Linked DNA regions of Homo sapiens: region 1 is linked to region 2. Evidence: fine-mapped expression QTL. Tissue or cell type: fibroblasts. Region 2 holds a variant in brackets; the other region holds the start of a gene. All regions are shown on one strand. Distances are from middle to middle.

The links. PIP is the estimated chance that this variant, and not a neighbour inherited with it, causes the effect.
Region 1: it holds the start of ABCB10, and the variant in region 2 is fine-mapped to the expression of ABCB10 in fibroblasts (GTEx, PIP 0.99).

The regions. Positions count from the first base shown.
Region 1 is chr1:229,554,145-229,562,248 of GRCh38, forward strand. ABCB10 (ATP binding cassette subfamily B member 10) reads right to left here and starts at 4,563. Exons shown (of 13, transcript NM_012089.3): 1 at 3,992-4,563. The coding sequence starts at 4,508. RefSeq lists silencers at 3,773-4,222, 4,283-4,982 and an enhancer at 5,153-5,342.
Region 2 is chr1:230,298,611-230,306,714 of GRCh38, forward strand. No RefSeq gene overlaps it. Among named protein-coding and RNA genes, the nearest start is that of PGBD5, 120 kb to the right of the region's middle. RefSeq lists a silencer at 7,702-7,791. The variant T/A (reference allele first, on the strand shown) is at 4,585.

The DNA.
Region 1 (8,104 bases), 740 kb before region 2:
CAGGTGGGTGTGATGGAGAACACAGGAGTTGAGGGTGTGGGGGAGATGGAGGCTGAGTGAAGAGACTCGGCATCTGCGCTGGGTAGAGAATGAGTGAGGACATGAGCGGCTGACAGATGAGAAGGGAGTAGAGGAAGAAGCCAGGGACTCCAGGTTCTGGAAATCTGGAGAAGAAAGATCTGAGCCCCCATGTGTCTGGTGCAAGATCAGACTGTCTCTGTCCATGCTATTAGCATGCTCTAGAGTTAGGAGTATCCCAAAGACAAAATTAAAATAAAACAGTTAGGGGTACCTGTCCCATGAACCACAGGAGGGTTCGCCATGGACTCTAACAGACATACGATGGGAGCCACCTAGGTAATTTAAACTTCTCTAGTTGCCACATTATAAAAAGGAATACGTAAAATTAATTTTAATAACATTTTACTTGACCCAATATATCCAAAATATTATCCACACATGATCAACATAAAAAATTAGTAAGATATTTTACATTTTTTCTCTACTGTCCTTCTGGAATCTGATGTGACAGCACAGCTACAGAATGCTCAGTTTCGCTGAAACAATGTATTTCTGTAGCACACGCACATCCCTGGCTTTCGGGGGCAGTTCCGATTTCAAAGGTTCATCCATCCCAGCCCCCACAGGGCACTGTCCCTGCGGGATCTCCATCCTCACTGGGCTTCAGGAAGTAGCTACTCTGGCCTCCTTGCCCACCATACCCACTGCTTTTGTCACTATATTCACTGTGGTCACTCACGGCCCATCTTCATAAAATGCAACTACAAACTCAGCAAAAGCTGCCAGCAGGCTTCAGGTTCTCAGAGCAGTCCTGCCCTCAAACCACACACCAGCCCCTTATCAGTAACTGCAGTGAGAGGAGCCCTCCTGAGTCCTCCACACAGGCACCAACTGAACATGCCCCAGCGGAGGGGATACATGTGTGCAGTCCACAGTTTAATGAAGGCATGCTGCCCACCCCGCCGAAGCCCCCCACACAAAAAACCTCCAGGAGGCAGCTTTGCCCTAATCTCACAGTACTGTAGGGGCCCACATTTGCTCCTAAAACCCTGCCCCTAACTCACTCAGGTCAGAGCCTCATCTATCTGCCAGGCACAGCCAGACGGTTCTGATGAAGTGTCGCTTATCCCATCAATCCACACCCTGCTCCTCCTCAAGCACCTGCATCTTTTAAGAGTCCTTCTGGCCAAAGTGATACGATGGAGAATTATCAGTGAAAAGGGACCTTACATCTGTATGAAGACAGCTGCGAATTCCTCCCCAAAGGGGCGGCTTAGGCCTTCCTTTAGAAGAGGAATGTAACACAGTTATGCTAAAGCTGCTTTCAGCACACGTCTGTACATATTTCATGGTAGACTGTGTTTTTAAAGTTTCTGATGCAATCAAAGTTTTCTGTTCACACAGTTTAGGAGGCATACCCAGCAAAATGCTGAGACAGATGGAGGTATTATTATTAAAATATAAAGCTGCATTTTTGAAAAAAGATTTTTGTATTTTTCTAAAAATTAACAAATTAACATTGGAATTCCTTTTCAGCTCAGCTTTTTTAGTGTTTTGATTAGAAAATACACACACGCAATTGCTCTTTACCTCCAGCATTTCAAAGAGATGTGCCAACACCTCAGGCTGCTCTTAGAATGATAAATTACACATTTTTTTTTAATTACAAATTAACAATGACCACCACTTCCTCTTAATCCTAACTGGCTTTAATATATAATAACTTCTCAGGAAATCATACATCTAAATAAGGGCTTTTTATCAGATATCCTTATCCTCATAACATACAATATGTATTTATCTGTTTGAAAAGCAAAAAAAAAAAAAAAAATAGTGTGCCAACCCTAGGCTTGTTTCTTCAAATTATATATTCATAATTTCTCAATGTGGTGGAACAAAATATATTCTGTTCTTAAAATAAAAAGAAGGCCGGGTGCAGTGGCTCACACCTGTAATCCCAGCACCTTTGGAAGGCCAAGGTGGGCAGATCACCCGAGGTCGGGAGTTCGAGACCACCCTGACCAACATGGAGAAACTCTGTCTCCAAAAATACAAAATTAGCCGGGTATGATGGCACATGCCTGTAATCCCAGCTACTTGGGAGGCTGAGGCAGGAAGATCGCTTGAACCCGGGAGGCGGAGGTTGCGGTGAGGTGAGATCACGCCATTGCACTCCAGCCTGGGCAACAAGAGCAAAACTCCATCTCAAAAAAAAAAAAAAAAGGTACGAGCTGGGTGTGGTGGCACATGCCTGTAGTCCCAACTACTCAGGAGGTAGAGGCAGAGCTGCTTGAGCTGAGGAGTTCAACACAAGTCTCAGCAACACAGTGAGACCCCTATCCCAGAAAAACAAAAGAAGAAAGAAAAAAGGAGGCAGTCTCGTCTTGTTTAAGGCTGTCACCAAAACATACTAGCATGGCAGGATATCTGGGGACAGAGTGAGGGGTCACAGGAACAATGGTCATGGCATAAGAGGACTGGGCACGTGTAGGCCACCAAAGCCTGACACCTAAACACCCTTCCTGACATCTAGTATTTCAGAAACAAAACAGAACTGGATTTCCTTACACTTACTTTGAGTCACATACAGAAGTGGTGGGCGCACCCGATGATGCTCAGGGTTTCTAAAGGCCTCACTCTGTGCCTGGTGGTATGGTCATTTATTCCTTCACTGAAGGCACTCTGAGCGCCTGCTCTGTGCCGTGCACATGCTAAGAACTAGAGACAGAAAGATGAATCGCACAGTCCCCGTCTCAAGCAGCTCAAAGTCCAGTGAGAGCTCCTAGTCTCCAATGTTTTTAAAAAGAGGAAAGAGAAAAAGATATTTTACAACAAAATCTACACTCAACCAACTGAACAATGAAATAATTCTCTTTACACCCGAGTGATATCAACAGCCCCCTAAGCTTTCATAGCAACTGGTAGATGAAAAGTCGCCACCCTAACTGCTCTCCTCCACTGTGCAAACCTACTCTAAATCCCAAATCACTACCCAGGAGGGTCCTTTCTAAAGCAATGGATTTGCAGCAAAGAATGCTTTTCTGGTGTTGCACCTGACAACCTCACAGGCCCCACAGGCCCCCTTCCACAGCCCACAGGTGCAGGTTTACCTCTATACATACGAATATTTCATAGATGCTTCTCCCCACTAACCTAGAAGCCCCAGCAGAAGTGAGGACCATGTTTCCTTGTGCATGCCACTGTAAACCCAGGGCCCAGTCCAGAATGAGGGCTCAACAGATGTTTATAGAAGGAGTGAAGATTTAGAGAAATCGAAAAAATTTTAGATCTTACAAGGCCCTTGCATCTAAACACTCCTCCAATTATGGCTAAAAAATGAGGAGCTATAGAAAACTGTCCTATTTAAATTTTGTTTCTAAAAACATTCATTTTGGCTTCTTTTAAAAAAGTTACTCAATTACTGAACAGATCACTGGTGTGGCCTGTTGAACACAGTGCTGTAACTTCCTGCACAAGAGACAAGTCTGAAAGTTTTGCTTTCCGCTGTGAAAGCATTGGTGACTGCTTGACAGACTCGCTTGAAGCAAATAATGTGTTTTTGGTTAAAAAAAAAAAGTATAAACGCCTAATAACAAAATAGGCATATTTTTGGCTAGAATTTTTTTTTCCAAGGAAAAACCTCCAGCTCATTTTGCTGCCTAAGCCAAAACAGATGCTCCCACTAAGTTGGTGGTGGAACAGACCCAAAGATTCCAATAATGACATATATAACGTGTGTCAACAAGAAAACAAGTGTAAAATCTGCAAACGAGTCCCCAGCTAAGGCGAAATCTTGACAACGCTACTCTGAGGTGAGCGATCCCCTCCCTCCTCCGGGGTTAGGAGTGGCCCAGGAGAGGCGGCGGTGACACGCGCTCTGCGGCCCGGCCGTGTCCCTCTCGGCGCCCCGGGACCCCGCGTGTGGAGAAGGAGAGGCCCGGCGGAGGGAAGTGGCCGGGGAGGACCCTACCTGCCAGCCTCCGGCGCTCAGGGTACGCCAGCCCCAGGAGCTTCCGGGCCTCCGGGAGTCCGGCCGCTGCGGGGCGCAGCCGCCCCTTGTCCCCGGGAGGCGCCGCCGGCCCGCGCCGCCAGGCCTCGTCCCCTGCCCAGGCAGCGGCTGCGGGACCGCCCGGGAACCGGGCGCGCGGGAGCCGAGGAGCGCCTGGCCCGGCAAAAGCCCCGCACCTGCAGCTGCCGGGGCCGCGAGCCCACAGCCCCAGGAGCCGCGCGAGGCCCAGGACGCCCCGCGAGGCGCCCGGACCCCCGCCCCGGCAGCCGCTCCTCCAGCGGCGCGCGGCTCCAACGCCCCAGAGCAGCGCGGGCCCCGCGCCCCATAGCCGCGCCGGCCTCAGGCCAGTGAACGGCGATAGGGACCCGGGAACGCGGCTGGCCGCGGCCCACACGCAGGCTACCGGCAGGAGCCGACCTGGCTCGGCAGGGCTCGGTGGCTCGAGCAGCCGCAGCGGCCAGGCAGGGGGGCCTCGCATGGCGCTGCGTGCGACCCGTACGCCTCAGCCCGCCGGCCAGGCGCGCGCAAAGCCCGAGGACCCTCCCGGCCCGGCCCCGAGCAAAGGGCGTGGACGCGGTGGCGCCCGCCCCTCCCCGCTGGCTGTCACCCGCCTTATCGTGCCTGCACCCTCGGGCTGCGCCCGCCCCCGCCCCATCCTCGTCCGCGCGGTGCCGCGCCTCTCCGCCCCACTCCGGGGACTGCAGCTACCCGGACCTTGCAAGCCACCCTTCCGAGCGCCCCCAACCCGCTCGGGTGCCCTCCCTGCAGCGCCCCCAACTGCCCGCTGGCGGAGGAGCGCCGGGCGCGCCAGCTGGGACGAGGCCCGGGAAGCCCAGGAGCACGGCTGCGCCTGCGTACTGGGCGCAGGGAACTTTTTCGCGCTTCGCCGTCCCCTCTGGTCTGAACTTGGGAACGACACGAGCTCTTTCTCACGCCGGCAGACCGGGCGGAGCGCGCAGACGCGACCACACGATGGCCGGCACAAAGATGGGGCGGGAGGACAGCGTGCTGGATACGGCGTGGGGCGGGTCCGCGGCCCGGGAGACCCATGCTGGGGCGGCCCTGTCACTCGTCTCGCTGCCAAGCACAGGGCTGAGGTGCGGAGGGACCACTGAGAGGACTTCGCTGCGTGTCAGCTCAGCTCTGGACGGCGTGGAGGAGGTGGTTGGCGAATAGTGAAATGTATATAACTTTGAGAAGGGAAGAGATCGTTTCTTTTTTTTCTTTTTTTTTTTTTTCTTGAGACGATCTCGGCTCACTGCAACCTCTGCCTCCCAGGTTCAAGTGATTCTCCCTTCTCAGCCTCCCAAGTAGCTGGGATTACAGGCATACGCCACCACACCCGGCTGATTTTGTATTTTTAGTAGAGACGGGGTTTTACCATGTTGGTCAGGCTCTTTTCGAACTCCTGACCTCAGGTGATCCGCCCGCGTCAGCCTCCCAAAGTGCTGGGATTGCAGGCGTGAGCCACCGTGCCCGGCCTGAGATCGTTTCTTAACTAGAGCAGAAATTTGAAGACAGGCGTGGTCGAGGCATTCCCGCTGTTCGAAGTGGAAAACACTAATCAGAAGGCAATGCATCTTAATACACGTGCATGGAAAGACAGGAGAGAACATTAAAACTCACTGGGACACTTTATGGAGACTTCATGGGGGCGGGGGGGGATATGTACCTGAGGTCCAGTGAGTCGTGGGTAGATTTTTGTAGACTCCTAGGTATTTTTACTGGACCTGGACAGGGTACTGTCAGTTGCAAATTTTATGGGTTCACAAAATAAAAAAACCTCAATAATCAACATAAACATTTTAGTGCAATATTTTTAAAAATCAAAATTAATTTAAAAAATCCGTAATGAACAAAATATAAAAAATTTTGATTGAGTATCCACTCCTGACCTTTCACAATCCTGCCTCTCTTCTCTCGCTCTAATCCCAGCCCTGGAAACTTTATTTACAAAAACTGACAGCAGCTGCCCTTAGTTTGGCAGCTGGAAAATGGGAAAGAGAAAGTAAGAGGAAGGTGAGATTTGGGTTAAAGTTGTCACTTTCTCTTCAACTGGGAGGGTATCAATCCTTGATGTTTCTTTAGTTGGGCTCAAAAAGGAGGTAGCGGCCGGGCGCGGTGGCTCACACCTGTAATCCCAACATTTTGGGAGGCTGAGGCGGGCGAATCACGAGGTCAGGAGTTCGAGACCAGCCTGACCGACGTGGTGAAACCCCGTCCCTACTAAAAATACAAAAATTAGCCAGGTGTGGTGGAGCGTGCCTGTAATCCCAGCTACGCAGGAGGCTGAGGCAGGAGAATTGCTTGAACCCGGGAGGCGGAGGTTGCAGTGAGCTGAGATGGTGCCACACCGCACTCCAGCCTGGGAGACAGAGCAAGACTCCGTCTCAAAAAAAAAAAAGAAAAGAAAAAAAAAGAGGAGGTAGCGGCCAGGCGGTGGCTCACACCTGTAATCCCAACATTCTAGGAGGCCGAGGCGGGCGGATCACTCCAGGTCTGGAGTTTGAGACCAGCCTGGCCAACATGGTGAAACTCCATCCCTACTGAAAATACAAAAATTAGCTGGGCTTGGTGGTGCATGCCTGTAGTCTCAGCTACTTGGGACGCTGAGGGAGCATAATCGGTTGAATCCAGGAGGTGGAGGTTGCAGTGAGCTGAGATCACGTCACTGCACTCCATGCACTCTAGCCTGGGCGACACACCAAGACTGCATCTTTTCAAAACAAAATAAAAACAAAAAAAACACAAAGAGGAGGTAGCAAGATGCACAATGAAAACGATCCCATTTCTTTTCAGAAGTCACCTCATAAAAACTGACTTAAAAATTTTCAATTAAAATAAATTTTGCATGATTTGATTACTGAGACTTTTTAGCACATCTTTAAATTTTGTCCCTAGTAGAGTGCCTTAAGTATATGGTCCTGGTAGGTAAGGAGTGAGGTGGGGGAAGGATCGATAATAGAAAGTGTGGGGTTAAGTCGGGCCTTAAATGTGCCTGTGAAATGAGCAGTAAGCATGTAATCCTCTAAAGTCCAACCTCTTAAACCCAGAGGACATGGAGTCTCGCCTCCCTACCCCCGCCCCCCCACTTTCCTGCCCCCAGGGTGACGACAATTCAAGCTAGTTTCTCATCAGTGCAGAAGTTCTAGAATTGGTGGTGTAGTGTGAAATCAGCTCCACTGATATTTATGACTAAGCATGTTCCTTTTAGCAAATATGTTATTCAGTGACTTCTGAAAAGAAGTAGGATCATGCCTCATCATGCATCCTGCTACCTCTTCTTTGAGCCCAGCTGAAGAAACATCAATGAACGACACTCTCCCAGTTGGAGAGAAAGTGACAATTTTAACCTAGACCTAAGCTTCATCTTTCTCTTACCCACTTTCCAGAAAACCCCTGCTGCTGCAAGGGCCAGGAAATGTCAGACTGGCCTTCCCTTCCTGCCTTCCCTGGCATGGCATCCCACTGCCTTTTTCTGCCATTGCTCTCTAAGGCCTCCAGTCAATAGAAAAATAACTCAAGTGTAGCTGATTAAAAAACAAAACTTGGCCAGGTGTGGTGGCTCACGCCTGTAATCCCAACACTTTGGGAAGCCAAGGTGGGAAGATCATTTGAGGCCAGGAGTTTGAGACCAACCTGTGCAACACTGGGAGACTCCATCTGTACAAAAACTAAAAATGTAAAAATTAGCTGGGTGTGGTGGTGTGTGCCTGTAGTCCCAGATACTTGGGAGGCTAAAGTGGAAGGATTCCCTGAGCCCGGCAGGTCAAAGCTTCAGTGAGCTGTGATTGGGCCACTGCACTCAAGCCTGGGCAACAGAGTGAGACCCTGTATCAAGAAAAAAAAGAAAGCCTGTAATCCCAGCACTTTGGGAGGCTGAGGTGGGTGGATCACCTGAGGTCAGGAGTTCAAGACCAGCCTGGCCAACATGGTGACACTTCATCTCTACTGAAAACACAAAAATTAGCTGTGTGTGGTGGTGGGTGCCTGGAATCCCAGCTACTGGGGAGGCTGAGGCAGGAGAATGGCTTGAACCCAGGAGGCGGAGGTTGCAGTGAGCAGAGATCACAC
Region 2 (8,104 bases):
TGACCCAGCCATCCCATTACTGGGTATATATCCAAAGGACTATAAATCATGCTGCTATAAAGACACATGCACACGTATGTTTATTGCGGCACTACTCACAATAGCAAAGACTTGGAACCAACCCAAATGTCCAACAATGATAGACTGGATTAAGAAAATGTTGCACATATACACCATGGAATACTATGCAGCCATAAAAAACGATGAGTTCACGTCCTTTGTAGGGACATGGATGAAATTGGAAATCAACATTCTCAGTAAACTATCTCAAGGACAAAAAACCAAACACCACATGTTCTCACTCATAGGTGGGAATTGAACAGTGAGAACACATGGACACAGGAAGGGGAACATCACACTCTGGGGACTGTTGTGGGGTGGGGGGAGCGGGGAGGGATAGCATTAGGAGATATACCTAATGCTAAATGACGAGTTAATGGGTGCAGCACCCCAGCATGGCACATGTATACATATGTAACTAACCTGCACATTGTGCACATGTACCCTAAAACTTAAAGTATAATAATAATTAAAAAAAAAAAGATAAAGAACCCAGGGCTCAAGGGGAACCCACGATTGCTCAAGATCATCGTCAATAACAGAGCTTGGTGGAAATTCACAAGTACTGACTCCACGGCCAGAGATCGTCTCTCCACTGGAGAGCGACTTCCTCCCTCTGGGTATGTGGCCTGTCAGTTTGACAACCAGGCCCTGCCTCCACTCCTTTAAATGCAGGGTCAGCCTGAGGGAGGGAAGAGGCAGAAAAAGGGCCCAGAGGTGCCAGATCTTCCTACAGTGGCCCTGTGCCAGGCCGTTCACCCAGAGGGAGGGTCTGCCTTCCATGTGCATCCCAACTGTCCTTTCTTTCTGTGTCTCCACCCTGGCTGTGAGGCTCTTCCCAGCAGACAGATCACAATGGACCTGTCCCTGTTATGATCCTTTGTTTGGTGACAGATAAACTGGGCAAAGTCTAAAGGCTGCCCCTGAGACAGTACTCACGATTACAATGATTTTTCCAGCCGCGTCATCCTTTTAAACTTTCATTTGACTTCCTGTTCCTCACGAGCACAGGGAGAAATGAGGGCTCCGTTCCTTGAACCAGAAACACAAAAGGGAGTTCTCCAAGCTGATCTGTGCCTGTGCATTTGGCAAGGACAAAAGCAGATGCTCTGATGTGACTGTTTCCTGGTTCTTCCTCTTTGCATTGAAACCTGCTCTCTCCGCTCTTCGGCAAATTCGCCCCGAGGAAGTAAGGTGCTGGGCACCTGTCACCACTGTATTGACTTGAAACTCCTGAATGTGCCCACTGCCCTCAGAATCCCTCCGGGGCCTGAAATCACCTCCATATTGATTTCTTGTTGCTGCTGTAACAAATGACCTCCAACTTGGTGGCTGCAACAACACAAATGTAGTACCTTACAGCTCTGGAGGTCAGAAGTCTGACACGGCCTCCCTGGGCGAAAGTAAAGGTGTCTGTAGGGCTGCAGTCCTTTCTGGAGGCTCTGAGGGAGGATTCCACTTCACACTGTGCCCAGCTTTTAGAGGTGTCCATGCCCCTTGGCTTACATCCCCCCATCCATCATCAAAGCCAGCAACGTTGCACCTCCTGCGTTCTTCACAGCCGTGTCTCCGCTGTAAACACAGCTGGGAAAGGTTCTCACTCACAAGGACCCTTGTGATGACACTGCACCCACAGGATATTCCAGGGTCCTCTCCCTGCCTCACAGACAGCTGATTGCAACCTGAACTCCTCTGCTACCTGAATTCCTGTTTGCTGTGAAAAGTAACATAGGCTTAGGTCCTGGGGATTAGGAGGTGAGCCTCTTTGTTTCGGGGTCGGGGCTCCTCGTTCTGCCCACCACACCTCCCATTAAGGCTTGCCATCATGATGGGCCATTACTGAAATGAGGGTGTTACCTGGGCAGTCGGGGTTTAAGGCCATCCCCACCACTGCGCACCAGCCCGCTGATCATGAGCACGGTGCTGGTCATAGTTTTTGAGACAGGGAGGTCCTAGAAGGCTCCAACAGCAGGAAAGGTAGGTTTCTCTAGCACTCATGGGTGGATGCCTTAGAAATAAGAGAGAAACAAACAGCCTCTGGGCCTTGAGAGGTTTAGATTTCCCATTTGAAGCAGAGGTGGTGTGGAGGGGAGGGCCGGGGCCAGCACCTGTTCAGAAAATGCATTCCCCAGAGATGGAAGCAGGTGACAGTGTTCTCACATTAGTTGTGCTGAGAGAAAAAGTCCTTCGTTCAGCTGCGCCCAAGGCTTTATTCACAGACTCCCGTCTCTCCCAGGGGTGCTGGAAAGACCTTGGGGACCTCCTCACCCTTCTTGCTGGAAGATGCCCGTACCGCAGCGCACGAGACCCCAGCTTTTCCGGGGCGGCTGCACTGTCAACTCAATGCCTAGCAAGGATGCGTCCGGCTGGGCATAAAGACAGCCCGGCCCGCTAAGCAGAGAAAGCTTCCCCTTCACCACCAGGCTGCTGACAGGTGTGAGTGGGGCAGGGCAGGGAGGAATCACTGAGGCACACCCAGGAAGCCTGACGAGAGGGGCCAAGCTCTGTCCGGACGTGGTGGCTGAGCACCCTGCAGAGGCTCAGTGGCCCTGGCAGCCCCTCGCCTGCTCTCTGGAGGCCTTTGCTCTCTAGTCCCCTCCCTTGAACTCTGAACTTCCACGGGTGAGGGGGGTGATAGAATAATGGCTTTATTTTCCCAGTCTGAAAAAAATAATATAGAAGAAATAACAGCTGGGCCTTCCTCTGCATGGAGTTTCCGCTCCCACGAGCATGTCCGTGTTTAGCATCGGCAGCCACCTGGCCATGCTGGACTCGGTGTGGCTGTGTCTGCAGTCGCATAGACATTTATGGTATTTCCAGTGGCCTGTCAACAGTGCCTGGTGTTCTCTAACAAGTGCTGTGGACTCCAAGGGCCTGACCACCTGCAGGGCTTGAGAACCACAGTTCAAGCAAGGTGAGACAGGGTCGGCAAGGCTGGCCTTGGCGTCTCCACAGGTCAGTTGGTCCTCAGCCAGGCATGCCACCCTGTGGGCTTTGGGGCTGCTTTCCCTCTGGAGTCTAACTCAAAGCCTTTTTTTTTTTTTTTTTTTGAGATAGAGTCTCGCTCTGTCACCCAGGCTGGAGTGCAATGGTGCGATCTCTGCTCAATGCAACCTCTGCCTCCTGGGTTCAAGCGATTCTCCTGCCTCTGTCTCCTGAGTAGCTGAGATTACAGGCACCCGCCACCACACCCTTTTGTATTTTTGGTAGAGGCCAGGGTTTCACCATGTTGGCAGGCTGGTCTTGAACTCCTGACCTCAAGTGATCTGCCTGCCTCAGCCTCCCAAAGTGCTGGGATTACAGGCATGAGTCACCACGCCCAGCCTGGAAGCCTCTAAATGAGCCAGGTGTCCCTGTGTCTTTGAGAGCACTGAGGGCTGGGCTCCAGTGGGCAGGGCAGCCCATCCGCGATGTCAGCACATGGATCTCTGGCTCCTTGTTAGACAGGAGCTCTGTACAGTAGAGTGGCGGGAAGGTCACAGAGCCCTCTCTCTCTACAAGGTCTCTGAGTAAAAAGTGCCTGAAGTGTCCACCTCCAGCACCGCAGCATGCTGGAATTGCCGGCTGTCTCTCGAGTTTCCTTTTAGAACCTTCTCTAGAGCTCTGCGATTCACAGAATGGATTCACAGCTGCTAGAGTGGTAAAACCCATTGCAGATTGTTCAGACGATTAGAAAAAATTCTCTTGTATGGAGCCCAAATTTGCCTCTAATTCTGACCCCTGAGCTATATTGAATTAGTTCAGTCTTCTTCTCATGGCAGGTTCAAATCTTTAAAGCTGATTGGAGACCTCAGCAAGGCCCTTCCAGTTTCCCCACTTCTTTATGGAAGCTTCTTCCCAGTTGGGATGCACCTGAGACAGCCCCTCCTCTAGATCCGGCCTTCTTTACTCACTCCTCCTACAAATCAACTCAGGGGGGGCCATACTTTGAGCTCTGTGCTCTCTCAATTCAAATTGCACTTTTAAGAAGTGACAACAATGACCTCTGAATTTCACGTTGCCTTGTGTATTTTCTAAGTGGTTCCATAGAATGAAAGCAGGTTTTTCCAGGTTGGCTAAAATCTACCTGCAGCCACATCTTAGCCATGTGGTATAATAACTAAAAGTATGGGCCATGGAATCAGGCTGCTTGAATTCACATCCTGGCTTGATCACTTACGAGCTATGTGTTTTTGAGCAAGTTACTTAACCTCTCTGTGCTTCAGTTTTCCATCTGCCAATTAGTGATAATAAGAGTGCCTACCTCAAAGCGTTGTTGTTAGGATTAAATATTTTTAATCCTAAATTAATGTGTGTTAAAGCCTTTAGTAGAATGTGTGGTTCTTAAAAAGTGGCATTAAAACGATGTCAGCTGTTGTTATCCTTAAGCTTCTCTGCAACCCCAGAGTACCCAGAACTGTGTTGAGGACCCACTGTCTCCCAATCAGTAATCATTAACGGGTCCAGATACTGTAGCACCATATGAAAGCACCCGGGTGTCTTAATACAGTATCTAGTCTCAACTTTCATCCTAAGGATGGTGAG[T/A]CTGGGGTCACAGTAGACCTCACCATCCATCAAGTTGGCCATCACTTCCTTTGAGGGCAGCCCCTCGAAAACACACGGACAGCTCACCATCTGGTGGACAGATTCACAGCTGCTGGAGTGGTAAAGCTCATTGCAGATTGTTCAGACCATTAGACAAAATTTCCTTGTATGGAGCCCAAATCTGCCTCTAATTCTGACCACTAAACTGTACATCGAATTAGTCCAAGTCCTCTCCTCATGGCAGGTTCGAATCTTTGACACTAAGGAACTCTTCTAAAAGCCCTCGGTGGTGCTCTAAGTGACAAGGCAAGACGAAGTGACTTAAATAAGAGTAAAGGACACTGTGCCACTCTGGAAGTGAGGGACTCAGCTTCTGACCCCAGCCTGCACAGACTCCCCAAGGCCTGGGAATTGCCCTTTCTTAACTCTTTCCTACAAAATAGATCCTAATTTATGAGTTTCCCCCTCTCTTCCTCAGTGAGTCCAGACCCGGCACTGGCCTTCTCATGCCTGGTGGGGGCAGGTTGGCTTTTCTGCAGCCACACTTGCCTCTGTTCCATACTTTCTCCACCTAAGAGTTAAAGTAAGGTTTGTTTGTTTCAGGTGGGGTCTTGCTATGTAGCCCGGGCTGGCCTTGAACTCCTGGGCTCAAGTGATCTTCCCGAGTAGCTCAGACTACAGGGATGCACCCTGCACCAGGCTTAAAGTGAGTTTTTGAAAAGAGATCTCACATGAAAAGATGCTTGACATCATTAGTCATCAGAGAGGCGCAAATTGAAACCACAGTGAGACACCACTTCATACCCACTCAGAATCAAAGGGACAATAACAACTGTTGGCGAAGATGAGGAGCAATTGGAACCCTCATTCATTGCTGGTGAGATTGTGAAACGGTGCATCCGCTTTGGAAAACAATCTGGCAGTTCCTCAAAAGATTAGCTGTGGAGTCACCACATGACCCAGAGATTCCACTCCCTGGCCGTCTCCCAAGAGAAATGAAAATATATTAAATCCACACAAAAACTTGTACACAAATCCCATAGCAGCACTATTTGTGATAGCCAAAATGTGAAAATCAACCAAATGTTTATCAACTGATGATGGGTGGATAAATAAAATGTGATGTATGCCTACCTGGGAATATTATTCAGCCACAAGATTGAAGTACTGATGCACGCCACAGCATGGAAGAATCTAAGCAAAAGTAGCCAGCCACGAAAGGCCACATGTTATACAATATCACGTATATGAAATGTCCAGGATAAGCAAATCCGCAGGGACAGAAAGTGGATGAGCTGTTCCCAAGGGTTAGAGGGCGAGGGAATGAGGGGTGAGGAGTGGCTGTTGACGGGGATTATTTGGGGAATAAAAAAGATGTTCTAAGATTAGATTATGGTGATGATTACACAACCTCATAAATATACTAAAAACCACTGAACCTTACGCTTCAAATGGGTAGGCTTTTTGGTTCCTAAATCATATCTCAATAAAGCTATTATGTAAAAGTGAATTTTTAAGCTATTTTTTATTTTACAGTTTATATGTTTGATAGTACAATTTACATAATTTATCATGCATGTTTATATCTTAATAAAAAAAAGAAAGAAGAACATATTGGGCCAGGCTATTAAGGAGTAGCATAAGGGAGTTTCTTTGGGGAGATAGGACAGTTTCACGTCCTGACTGAGGTGGTGATTACTGGAGTCTACAAGTGTGATTAAATGTCATATATCTATACACCAAGAGGAAGGGACGGAGTCACTTGAACCCGGGAGGCGGAGGTTGCAGTGAGCTGAGATTGTGCCACTGCACTCCAGCCTGGAGACAGAGAGAGACTCCATCTAAAAAAAAAAAAAAAAAAAAAAAGCCAGACATTCTAAAAGCTTATCAATGGGGGAATAATTTTGTTATCTTTGTACATATATACTATGGCATATATTACATCATTTAAAAATAGCGTAGACACATGTAAATAAAGATCAATGATAAGAGAAAAAGTGACAAATATGTATAATCTGATCCAATTAATGTTTTTAAAAAAGAAAAAGGCTGCATGTATGTAAAAAGGCCTAGAAAGAGCTCTGAATAAATTTATTTTGTATTGCTATAAAGGAATATCGGACACTGGGTAATTTATCAGTAAAAGAGGTTTATTTGGCTCACAGTTCTGCAGGCTGCAGAGAAGCATGGCACCAGCATCTGCTTCTGCTGAGGGTCTCAGGGAGCTTCCAATCATGGTGGGAGGGGAAGGGGAGCTGTCATGTCATATGGCAAGAGAAAGGGAGCAAGAGAGAAAGGGGAGGACATGCCAGTCTCTCTTTATTTTATTTACTTGTTTTTGAAATGGAGTCTCACTCTTTCACCCAGGCTGGGGTGCAGTGGCGTGAACTTGGTCCAGTGCAACCCCTGTCCGCCTCCCAGGTTTAAGAGATTCTCAGGTCTTGGCATCCCAAGTAGCTGGGATCACAGGCACCCACCAAGAAGCCCAGCTTATTTTTGTATTTTTAGTAGAGATAGGGTTTCACCATGTTGGCCAGGCTGGTCTTGAACTCTTGACCTCAAGTGATCCACCTGGCTGGGTCTCCCAAAGTGCTGGGATTGCAGGCATGAGCTGCCAAGCCTGGCCCCAAGCTCTTGTTTTTTGAGACAGAGTCTCGCTCAGTCACCCAGGCTGGAGTGCAGTGGTGCAATCTTGGCTCACTGCAACCTCTGCCTCCTGGGTTCAAGCGATTCTTGTGCCTCAGTCTCTTGAGTAGCTGGGATCACAGGCACCTGCCACCAAGCCCAGCTAATTTTTGTATTTTTAGTAGAGATGGGGTTTCATGATGTTGACCAGGCTGGTCTTGAACTCCTGACCTCAAGTGATCCTCCTGCCTCAGTCTCCCAAAGTGCTGGGATTACAGGCATGAGCCACCGTACCTGGCTTCAGGCTCTTTTTAAACAACCAAACCTAAAGGTAACTAACAGAATGAGAGCTCATTTATTGCGATGGGGATGGCACCAAGCCATTCATAAGGGATCCACCCCATGATCCAAGCACCTCTCATTAGACCCCACCTCCAACACTGGGGATCACATTTCAACATGAGATTTGGAGGTGACAAATATCCAAACTGTACCAAGCTCTGAAAGTAAAACTAAATTGATGCACAGTGCTTACCTCTCCTAGACTCAGAGGGCGGAAGTCAATGCCCTCTCGTGGTGGGGGTGGAGGAGGGAAGGAAGACATGTGAAGGTCAATTTCATCATTTTATGAAAAGCATGAATACTAACGAGAATTTCTTATGATGACATGTCCAAGTATCTTTTGCTATTTTTTTTTTTTTTTTTTTGAGATGGAGTCTTGCTCTGTCACCCAGGCTGGAGTGCAGTGGCATGATCTCGCTCACTGCAAGCTCTGCCTCCCAGGTTTACACCATTCTCCTGCCTCAGCCTCCCCAGTAGCTGGGACTACAGGCGCCTGCCACCATGCCCGGCTAATTTTTTGTATTTTTAGTAGAGATGGGGTTTCGCCATGTTA